Homo sapiens: one gene and its partners. The protein of the gene in region 3 interacts with the protein of the main gene of each other region in a biochemical or structural test. Each region holds a gene or a part of one and is shown on either strand. Other genes may lie near its edges.

Evidence for each region.
Region 1: of the proteins of TOP2A (region 3) and PRKCG, one has a biochemical effect on the other in vitro, tested with the Homo sapiens proteins (one study listed by BioGRID).
Region 2: the proteins of TOP2A (region 3) and GINS1 form a complex in vitro, tested with the Homo sapiens proteins (one study listed by BioGRID).

What each region holds. Positions count from the first base shown.
Region 1 is NC_000019.10:53,902,568-53,906,219, reverse strand, and holds part of PRKCG (protein kinase C gamma type), read right to left. Parts: intron 3,148-3,652; coding exon 3,067-3,147; intron 1,586-3,066; coding exon 1,478-1,585; intron 1-1,477. UniProt on the Homo sapiens protein: Calcium-activated, phospholipid- and diacylglycerol (DAG)-dependent serine/threonine-protein kinase that plays diverse roles in neuronal cells and eye tissues, such as regulation of the neuronal receptors GRIA4/GLUR4 and GRIN1/NMDAR1, modulation of receptors and neuronal functions related to sensitivity to opiates, pain and alcohol, mediation of synaptic function and cell survival after ischemia, and inhibition of gap junction activity after oxidative stress.
Region 2 is NC_000020.11:25,410,623-25,414,274, reverse strand, and holds part of GINS1 (DNA replication complex GINS protein PSF1), read right to left. Parts: intron 3,159-3,652; exon of another isoform or gene 2,989-3,158; intron 486-2,988; coding exon 421-485; intron 1-420. UniProt on the Homo sapiens protein: Required for correct functioning of the GINS complex, a complex that plays an essential role in the initiation of DNA replication, and progression of DNA replication forks.
Region 3 is NC_000017.11:40,400,826-40,404,477, reverse strand, and holds part of TOP2A (DNA topoisomerase 2-alpha), read left to right. Parts: coding exon 1-101; intron 102-204; coding exon 205-326; intron 327-1,423; coding exon 1,424-1,572; intron 1,573-3,396; coding exon 3,397-3,628; intron 3,629-3,652. UniProt on the Homo sapiens protein: Key decatenating enzyme that alters DNA topology by binding to two double-stranded DNA molecules, generating a double-stranded break in one of the strands, passing the intact strand through the broken strand, and religating the broken strand.

The DNA of each region.
Region 1 (3,652 bases), on a different chromosome or scaffold from region 3:
CAAGAGACACAGGCATGAGATCCGGAGAGATAAGAACAGCCAGGGGAAACAGGCAAATGGAGGGAGGAAGGGAAAAGAAAGGAGAGAGAGAGAGAAGAAAAGAAGAAGAAGAAGAAGAAGAAGAAGAAGAAGAAGGAGGAGGAGGAGGAGGAGGAGGAGGAGGAGGAGGAGGAGGAGGGAGGAGGAGGAGGAGGGAGACAGACAGAGAGCGAGACAGAGAGAGACAGAGAGGAGAGAGAGAGGAAGAGGGACAGAGAGAGAGAGAGACAGAGGGTGAGAGTGAGTGAGAGAGAGAGAGAGAGAGACAGGAAGAAGGAGAGGATACATGAAAATGATAGCAGATGAAATTCATACCCAGAGACCCAGGGACACACAGAGAAACAGAACAAATCATGAGGGAGATGGAGAAGAGGAGAGGGAAAAGGGGTAGGGGGAGAGAGGGAAGGGGAGAGAGGGACGGGGAGAGGGAAGGGTAGGGGGAGGGAGGGAAGGGGAGAGTGAAGGACAGAGGGAGGTCGGTAGGGGGAGGGAGGGAAGGGTAGAGGAGATGAAGGGGAAGAGGGAGGGAATGGGGGAAGAGAGGTTGCAGACCCAGAGAAAAGGGGAAATAGAAATTCAGAGGGTGGTACAGAGACCCCAGGTAAGAAGGCAGAAACTCAGAGAAGGGAGGAGACAGAGGAGACCCAGGGGGACAGAGATTCAGAAAGAGAGAAGGATAGAGACCCAGGAAACACACACCCAGAGGGAGGAATAAAGACCAAATATGGGGACAGAGACCCAGAGAAAAGGGAGGACAGAAAGCCAGCAGGAGAGGAGGGTGAGATGTAGCGTGTGTGTATGAGAGTGGACACAGGAGGGGACAGAGATGGGGGGTAGGGGGGTTGGACAAAGGCCCAAAAGTGTAGACAGAGATGCAGAAGGAGACACAGAGAAAAGGAAGAAACACAGAGAGCCCCATCGTATGCAGATGGAGGGGAGGCATGAGACAGAAACCAGAGAGACTGTCAGGGAGATGCAGAGAGAGCAGCTAGACGCAGAAGGTGCTGACATGGGCTGAAAATCTGCTATGGGCCAGGTGCTTTCTTCTGTGTCAACTCCATAACCCCTGAAGAGAGTTAAGCTCACAAAGTTTTGGTGACTCACCCAAGTTCACACAGGAAGAAAAGCTGCAGAAGTTGGGTTTACCTGACCCACCCAGTTCTAGACAGACAGACACCCTGGACTTTCAGCACTTCCTGCAAGCAGGGAGCTGGGGAGTGGGAGTCACAGAGAAGGATGAGACAGAGGCCATCTCCAGGCCTCGTGGCAACAGGGCTGGAAATCATTGTTCTAACAAAACCTATGCATCATATCAACTTTTCCAACAGATGGAAGTAAAGTGACTTCAGGAATGGGAGCATTTTTCTAATAGGCACAGAGACAGCAATGGGGTGTGTGGTTGTGAGCCTGGAGAAGCTGGGAGTCAGGGGGCTCTCACCCCCTTGCAGATGGCCACGGCTTCCCGGGAAAGCGACTTGGGGTAGGTGACAGTTTGTTCCATGATGGCCTGAAACAGCTCCTCCTCGTCCTCCCCATCGAAGGGAGGCTATCAAAGTGGAGGGGATAGAGAGTCAGGGACATGCCCAACTGCCTTTCCCCAAACCTTCCACACCCTCCTCACCCCACCGGGAACATGCCTGACCCATCACACGCCCCACATGCACACCTGACCACACCCTCAGGAGAGATCAGACCAAACCACCAAAGCTTGATCTCTCTCCTTCTCAGGTTCTCTCATTTCCTATCTCGGATGCCTCAGATCTGTGCATCTCTGTACTATTCTGCCTCTCTTTATCTGCTATGTAAATCAGCAGGCTGTTAATTATGCAACATGTCAGTTAAATAGAAGAGAGGAAAAACTGCAGGAAACACCCTAAAAGCATTCTCCTGGTTGGATGAGTAGTTCACAGTCTTCTGAGGTTACAAAAAATGATACCAAGGCAAAGATTTAGAGATGGGGTTTCATCATATTGGCCAGGCTGGTCTCAAACTCCTGACCTCAAGTGATCTGCCCACTTCGGCCTCCCAAAGTGCTTGGATTACAGGCGTGAGCCACCATGTCCGGCCAAATTTTTTTTTAACTTCTAACTAAAATTTAGCATTCCCTTCAGTTATGAATGCAGGCAGCAGCAGTGCTTGTGGCTTCATTATCAATAGTAATCACAGGTATTTTCTCATCACATGAGAGTTGCAGATATTCCAAATTATTAGTCATTGCTACATCAAAATTACTGTTAGAGCTCCTTTTTACTTTACTACCATTAGAACTTACTACTTAATGAATTAATAAGAAATTGCACATATGTCCATTTTCCAATTTTAAATATTTAGACAACTGTATACATTGAATTTAGTTGGTTGTTAGATTCAATTAAATTTTAAAAGTTTTGGTGACTATCTTTCAAAATGATTGATTTCTTTTGTTTGTTTGTTCTTTTGAGATGGGGTCTTGCTCTGTCGCCTGTGCTGGAACACAGTGGCATACTCATAGTTCAGTGTAACCTTGAGTTCTTGGGCTCATGTGACCCTCCTGCCTCAGCCTCCCCAGTAGCTGGGACTATAGGTGCCCACTACCATAGCCAGCTAAGAAGATGATCAAGAGTGTGGTAACCAATTTTTTTAGTTGTAGTACACTCAGCAGTCCAGGAATCCAATCAAGCTGATTTAGAATGTATGTAATTGTCTAAGCTGACACAGCCAGTAAGTGGCAAAGTGAGGATTTGAACCTTGGTTTTCTGCGTATGTATTATTCTATTTTGTGCATTGAAAAACATTCTTCTGAGAAGGGATCCATAGGCTTAACCAGACTGCTACTTTACCATCTAGGGAGAAAGAATCCATGGTAACAGAACAAACAAAACAAAACAAAACAAAACACCTGGTCTACATTAAGACAACACTTCAGAACCATGGACAGCGCTATTCGAGCACAACCTTCTGGGCTCCTTTCTAACTGGCTCCTCCTGAGATCCAGGTGCCCCTCTCTGTCTCTTTTAGCCAAGCCAGCTTCTCCCCACCTTCCCTTACCTGTCCTGCCAACATCTCATACAGCAGAACTCCAAAGGACCACCAATCGACAGACTTCCCATAGGGCTGGTAGGCAATGATCTAGGGGAGGTGGAAGGCAGGGAATCATGATGCGTTCTTTAGGAAGCCTAGGACCCCTCTGGCCTCACCCCCTGGGAGCGCTACCCACGTTAAGTGCTTTCAGCACAAGCTCTTCCCACTCTGAATATTTATTTCATCAGGTGATTTTTTGTTTCGTTTTTTTTTTTTTTTTTTTTTTTTTTGACAGGGTCTCACTCTGTTGCCCAGGCTGGAGCACAGTAGTGTGATCACGGCTCACTCAGCCTCAACTTCCCAGGCTCAGGTAATTCTTCTACCTCAGCCTCCCAAGTAGGTGGGCTACAGGTGTGCACCACCACACCTGGCTAATTTTTGCACTTTTAGTGAAGATAGGTCCTCACTATGTTGCCCAGGCTGGTCTCAAACTCCCGGACTCAAGCAATTGGCCTGCCTCCGCCTCCCAAAGTGCTGGGATTATAGGAGTGAGCCACCACGCCCAGCCTCCACTCTGAATATTTTGGCCAGCGATCTAACTTTTGGAATATTC
Region 2 (3,652 bases), on a different chromosome or scaffold from region 3:
TTACAGATAATTTTTAAAAATCGCATCCCAAAACTAATGCAAGGTTATCTGATTTCAACATCTTTTTTTTTTTTTTTTTTTTTTTGGAGACAGAGTCTTGCCCTATCGCCAGGCTGGAGTGAAGTGGTGCAATCTCAGCTCACTGCAACCTCCACCTCCCGGGTACAAACAGTTCTCCTGCCTCAGCCTCCTGAGTAGCTGGGATTACAGGCACCCACTACCACACCCGGTTAATTTTTGTATTTTTAGTAGAGACAAGGTTTCACCATGTTGGCCAAGCTGATCTCAAACTCCTGACCTCGTAATCCGCCCGCCTCAGCCTCCCAAAGTGCTGGGATTACAGGCGTGAGCCACCGCGCCCGGCCAATTTCAACATCTTAATTATTGAATTGTTTTAGAATATCATCTTATGAAACTTACACATCAGACTGGTTTTGTTCATACAAAGCTTTCATCTCCTCCAGAACTTGTCTGAGTCCATCCTCCTAGAACATATAAACCGATATTGAAATCCACTGATTTCCCCACCAATTCTGTGGCAATATGCTATCAATACTGAACTGTATCTTTCATTTATATACTTTAGCAAAAAGCAATAGTCCTTTCACACCCCACTAGCATGGTTATAACAAGTGTTGGTGAGATGCGGAGAAACTGGAACCCTCGTACATTGCTGGTGGGAATGTAAAACGGTATAGCCCTGTGGGCAAAAACTTGACAGTTCCTCAAAAGCTACACACAGAATTACCATATGACTCAGTAATTTTACTCCTAGGTGTATATATATACTCAAGAAAACAGAAAACACATGTTTTTTGCAGCATTATTCATAACAATAAAAATGTAGAAACAACCCAAACGTCCATCAAATGATAGATGGATAAACCTTCCACTTATCTGAAAAATCTAATATAATAAAAAGAATGGGTCAAGGGTGGTGGCTCATGCCTGTAATCCCAGCGCTTTGGAAGGCTGAGGCGGGTGGATCACCTGAGGTCAGAAGTTCAAAACCAGCCTGGTCAACATGGTGAAACCCCGTCTCTCCTAAATATACAAAAATTAGCCAGGCGTGGTGACAGGCTGTAATCCCAGCTATTCAGGAGGCTGAGGCAGGGGAAATCGCTTGAACCCGGGTTGCAATGAGCCAAGATCATGCCATTGCACTCCAGCCTGAGCAACAAGAGCGAAACTTCGTCTCAAAGAAAAAAAAAAAAAAAATGAACTACTGACAACATACACAACAATGAGGATAATCTGAAATACGTTATACTGAGCAAGAGATGCCTGACACAAGAGTTTACATGAAATGATTCCCTCTGGCCCTTCACAGGAAAAGTTTGCCAAAAAGAATAATATCATCTGTAGTCAGAGAAAGCAAATTCATGGTTGCCTAAGGCTATAGGTGGGAGGTAGCTACAAAAGGGGGGCAAAGTTACAGAAATCTTTTTTAATTTTTTTATTTTTGTGGGTACACAGTAGGTATGTATATTTATGGGTTATATGAGATATTTTGATAATTACAGAAATCTTGATCAGGGTGCTGGTTATAAAGATGTACATATTAGTCAAAATTCAAAAATCTATTAAAATACACATGTTGTATGTAAATTATACATCAATAAAATTGACGAACAAAGATATCAATCGTCCTACTGAAGCATGAGGTATAAAGAAAAATATGTAAATAATTCATAATTTACTAAAAAATGGTCTTTTTTTTTAGATGGAGTCTCACACTGTCGCCTGGGCTGGAGTGCAATGGTGCAATCTCGGCTCACTGCAACCTCTGCCTCCTGGGTTCAAGCAATTCTCCTGTCTCAGCCTCCCGAGTAGCTGGGATTACAGGCGCCCACCACCACGCCTGGCTAATTTTTTGTATTTTTAGTAGAGACGGGGTTTCACTATATTGGCCAGGCTGGTCTTGAACTCCTGACCTCGGGTGATCCACCCGCCTCAGCCTCCCAAAGTGCTGGGATTACAGGGATGAGCCACTGGGCCCAGCTTAAAAGTGATCTTAAAAGGTTAATACCAAAAGAAAGAAAAAGGAATAGTGTTTTTGGTTTGCACTGCAAAAACCGGCCATAGGAGTTTTTCTAGTATCCAGTTTCGGGCAAATTTTCCCTTGGAAAAATAAAACATTAGAATTCTGATTTTTTTCGTTGTTGTTGAGATGAAGTCTCACTCTGTGGCCCAGGTTGGAGTGCAGTAGTGCGATCTCAGCTCACTGCAACCTCTGCCTCCCAGGTTTAAGTGATTCTCTTGCCTCAGCCTCTCGAGTAGCTGGGACTACAGGTGTGCACCAGCAATGCCCAGCTAATTTTTTTTTTTTTTGAGACGGAGTTTTGTTCTTGTCACCCAGGCTGGAGTACAATGGTGCAATCTTGGCTCACTGCAACCTCCGTCTCCCGGGTCCAAGCAATGATTCTCCTGCCTTAGCCTCTCAAGTAGCTGGGATTACAGGTGCCCATCACGTCCAGCTAATTTTTGTATTTTTAGTAGAGACAGGGTTTCACCATGTTCACCAGGTTGGTCTCGAACTCCTGACCTCAGGCAATCCACCCACCTCAGCCTCCCAAAGTGCTAGGATTACAGGTGTAAGCCACCAAGTCTGGCTAATTTTTGTAATCTTTTTTTTTTTGGTAGAGACAGGGTTTCGCCATGTTGGCCACACTGCTCTCAAACTCCTGACCTCAAGTGATCCGCCTGCCATGGTCTCCCAAAGTGCTGCGAGTACAGGCAGGAGCCACCGTGTCCAGCCCAAAATGATTAAATGTTACCCAATAGGTCTGCCAACAATCGAAAGAGAAGCAATCCCATCTCTTTTTCACTGTCTATTTTTAGGGCCAAAATATATGTGTTGGCAAAAATGCTGTGGCATATACAAATGGCACAATTCCAAAATCAACTACTCAACTCTGCTCAAAAGATGTAATTCCTGATGGAAAATGCAAGCATGACTTCTACCTGAGCCCAAGGTAATTTTCTTACCTTTTCCTTTTTGAGACAGGGATTCAGTCTGTCACCCAGGCTGGAGTGTAATAGCGTGACCACAGTTCACTGCAGTTTCAACTTCCTGGAGCCATGCAATCCTCTCACTTCAGCCTCCTAAGTTGCTGGGACTACAGGTGTGTGCCACCACACCCAGCTAATTCTATTTTTTGTAAAAATGGGGTCTCACTATGTTGCCCAGGCTAGTCTCGAACTCCTGGGCTCAAGTGTTCCTTCCACCTTGACCTCCCAAAGTGGTGGCTGGGATTACAGGCATGAGCCACCATGCTTGGCCTAACTTTCTTAAAAATGTACTTTTTAAAAAAAGTATCAATTCTGCATATAGAAAGGGTGTAATCACTTTTCTGTTTGCTGAACACAGCGCTTAACCATGAGTGATTCCAGAAGAAAAGCCTGTGTGTTGGGCCGGGCACGGTGGCTCACGCCTATAATCCCAGCACTTTGGGAGGCTGAGGTGGGTGGATCGCCTGAGGTCAGGAGTTCGAGACCAGCCCGGCCAAAATAGTGAAACCCCATCTCTACTAAAAATACATAAAATTATCTGGGCATGGTGGCAGGCGCCTGTAATCCCAGCTACTAGGGAAGCTGAGGCAGGAGAATTGCTTAACCCAGAAGGCGGAGGTTGCAGTGAGCCGAGATCACA
Region 3 (3,652 bases):
ACAAACTACCACATATCTGACATATAATGACTTCATCAACAAGGAACTTATCTTGTTCTCAAATTCTGATAACGAGAGATCTATCCCTTCTATGGTGGATGGTGAGTTCCAATTTGTTAGTCTGTTTTCATTGTAAGATGGAAATCAAATTCCAAAATTGGTTAAATTGAGGATACTTACGTTTGCTCTTATTTCATTTTAAAGGTTTGAAACCAGGTCAGAGAAAGGTTTTGTTTACTTGCTTCAAACGGAATGACAAGCGAGAAGTAAAGGTTGCCCAATTAGCTGGATCAGTGGCTGAAATGTCTTCTTATCATCATGGTGAGGTAAACACACAATCCATGTTTCCAGAAAGCATTATATCAGAAATCCCTGCAGAGTCATTCTCAAAACAGATTTGGTGAAAGTATAAGCTCATATATTCATAGTAAAGAACAAGTTGGTAAAACCTGTGAAAGAATAAAACTGCTTGCCCTTTGATTTCTGAAAGTAATATTCCTGCAGGGATATTCATAAGTCTGCAAAGGTCTACATTAAAAAATGCTTAGTATGTTTATTATAACTTTGTGATGTCAAAATTTAGACCTCCACTGATTTGAAAATTGTTATAATAAATTGTGACACATGTATGCATGGAATCAGTGCTGTAACTTCAGTAAAACTGTGTGCACTGACACTGAGGAATATCCAGGGTCTATTCTCAGGTGAGGAAAAAAAGAGACAGAACAATAACTAAAAATGTCTACAAGGATATGTTCCAAATTGTTCACTTTAGTTACCCCTGAGAACTGGAAAGGGCAACTTTCACTTTTTATATGTGTCTGAATTGTTTGACTTTACACCAATGTTTTGTGATTACTTTTTGCATTAATTATGTAAAACAGTTTTAAAGAACTAGATTGCCTACAGGTTTCTAGAATTTTAAATATAATGGTTGTCTTGTTGCTTTCAATCAAAATATAGTAGGGATACAATAAATTTTCACCCAACGAACATTTGTTGAATGCCTACCATGTACCAGGTATACAAAAATAAATAAAAATATGTTCCTTATCCCCAAGATATAATAACAATTTAGCCAGAGGGCCAATACACACACAGCTATAGAATAAAGTGATACATGCTAGAATAGAAATGAACACAGCATTGTAACACAAAGGAGGAAATATTTCATTTTGCTGAGGATAAGGAGAAGAACTATGCCTTCAAAGTTGAGTGGGATTTAATAGAAATTGTTGGACGGCAGCCCTAAACTTGGAGCCAGAAGTTGTAGGTTCAAGTACTATTTCTGCCATCTATTAATCTGAGGAAAGTCACTAAACAACTAGACCTCACAAAATGTTACAGGATTATAGTGAGGTTAAGTCATAATGTATTTGTATTAGTAAAAGCCTCAGCTTAATGAATCTTTTTTTCCCCACAGATGTCACTAATGATGACCATTATCAATTTGGCTCAGAATTTTGTGGGTAGCAATAATCTAAACCTCTTGCAGCCCATTGGTCAGTTTGGTACCAGGCTACATGGTGGCAAGGATTCTGCTAGTCCACGATACATCTTTACAATGCTCAGGTAGGTATGCTTTCACTTTCTAGTGACTTGCCATTTCCAGTTTTGAAACAATGTGAGATTTAGTTCACCAAAAATACAAAAACTCAGTTAATCAGAAGATACTGGCATCTAGTGGCAGAGGCCAGGGGTGAGGCTTATACAGGAAAGCCCCCCCATAACAATTATCCAGTGCAACATGTCAATTATGCTAAGGTTGAGAAATCCTGATGTAGAGCTTGGGACTGAGTAAAGGAGACTTTGATTCTTCCTAAATATCACAATTGAAATTTTACTCCTTTACAAGCCTATGGAAAGTATATTATGAATGGTCAATTTTCAGCTGTCATCCCAGTCACCCTTTCAGTGGCATTCAAACAGTTACTAATTGCTCCATCCTTCTTGAAACTCTTTATTTGGCCTCTATGACTGTAGACTCTTCTGGTTCTCTTCTACCTTATTAGCTTTCTCTGCTGGGTCCTTCTCACCTTCCCAACCTCTAAATACTGGCCCATTCCAGGGCTCCTTCATCAGATCTCTTTCCAATGCCTACACTCAATTCCCAAATGATCTCCCATTCATCCGTTCTATACCTTTAAATCTCCAGTCTTGGTCTCTCCCCTGAACTCCCAACTTTTATGTCTGACTGCCCTCTTAACATTTCCCACTTGGATATCTAGTTAAGTATCTCAAACATAAGTCTAAAACCAAATCCTTAGTTTTCCTGTCTCAGTAAATGGAATGCCATGCCATCCTTCTAATTGCTCAGGCTAAAAACCTTGTCACCCTTGACTCCTTTGCTTGATACTTAACATCCAGTTCCTCAGCCAATCCTATAGGATCTGCATTGGAAAAATACTAAGCCACCCCCATCTCATCTAAACTATTGTAACATATCATCTTTTCTTAAAGCAGCCAATTATTTTTTAAAAAATAAGTCACTCTGATTCAGAACCTTCAACTGCTCAGAGTAAAATCTAAAGACCTATTTTAGCTAACCAGACATTATGTGATCCGTGTCCCCACCTTCCATGTCTTTTGATTCCTTCTCATACCATCTCCTCTCCAGCCACACTGTCCTTGGCCTATACTCAAATATACCGAGCACATTTCCTCTTCAGGGCCTTTTACTTACTGGTTCCTTTGCCTGCAACACTCTTTCTCTAGATATCCACATGGTTCAGTCCCTCAGTTTGTTTTTTGTTGTTTTTTTTTCTTTTGAGATGGAGTTTTGCTCTTTTTGCCCAGGCTGGAGTGCAGTGGCGCAATTTCGGCTCATTGCAACCTCTGCCTCCTGGGTTCAAGTGATTCTCCTGCCTCAGCCTCCCGTGTTGCTGGGATTACAGGTACACGCCACCATGCTCAGCTAATTTTATATTTTTAGTAGAGATGAGGTTTCACCATGTTGGCCAGGTTGGTCTTGAACTCCTGACCTCAGGTGATCTGCCTCCCTCAGCCTCCCAAAGTGCTGGGATTACAGGCGCGAGTTACTGCACCTGGCGCCCTCAGTGTCTTTTCTCTGCTCAAATGTTTTCCTATCAGAAACGGCTTAACTTTCCTTAGCACCTCTTCAGTCACTTTCCCACTTTTTCTTCTCTTGTTTATCCCACCACCTAACAAAATATGTGTTAATTGCAAACTTCTACTGGACTGTGAGCTCCTTGAGGATTGAGACTTTATGTCCATGTGCGTGACACATAGCAAGTGCTCAATAAATATTGTTAAATGTATATTAGTCAGCAAGTAAAACCAAGATAATTTTCATGTATAATACATGTCCTTTCCATAAAAGTTAAGTGTGAAATTCAGTATTTTTGTAAAATAACATTCTTTGTTTCTTTTCTTTAGCTCTTTGGCTCGATTGTTATTTCCACCAAAAGATGATCACACGTTGAAGTTTTTATATGATGACAACCAGCGTGTTGAGCCTGAATGGTACATTCCTATTATTCCCATGGTGCTGATAAATGGTGCTGAAGGAATCGGTACTGGGTGGTCCTGCAAAATCCCCAACTTTGATGTGCGTGAAATTGTAAATAACATCAGGCGTTTGATGGATGGAGAAGAACCTTTGCCAATGGTAAGTATTCTGTGTGTGTTAAGA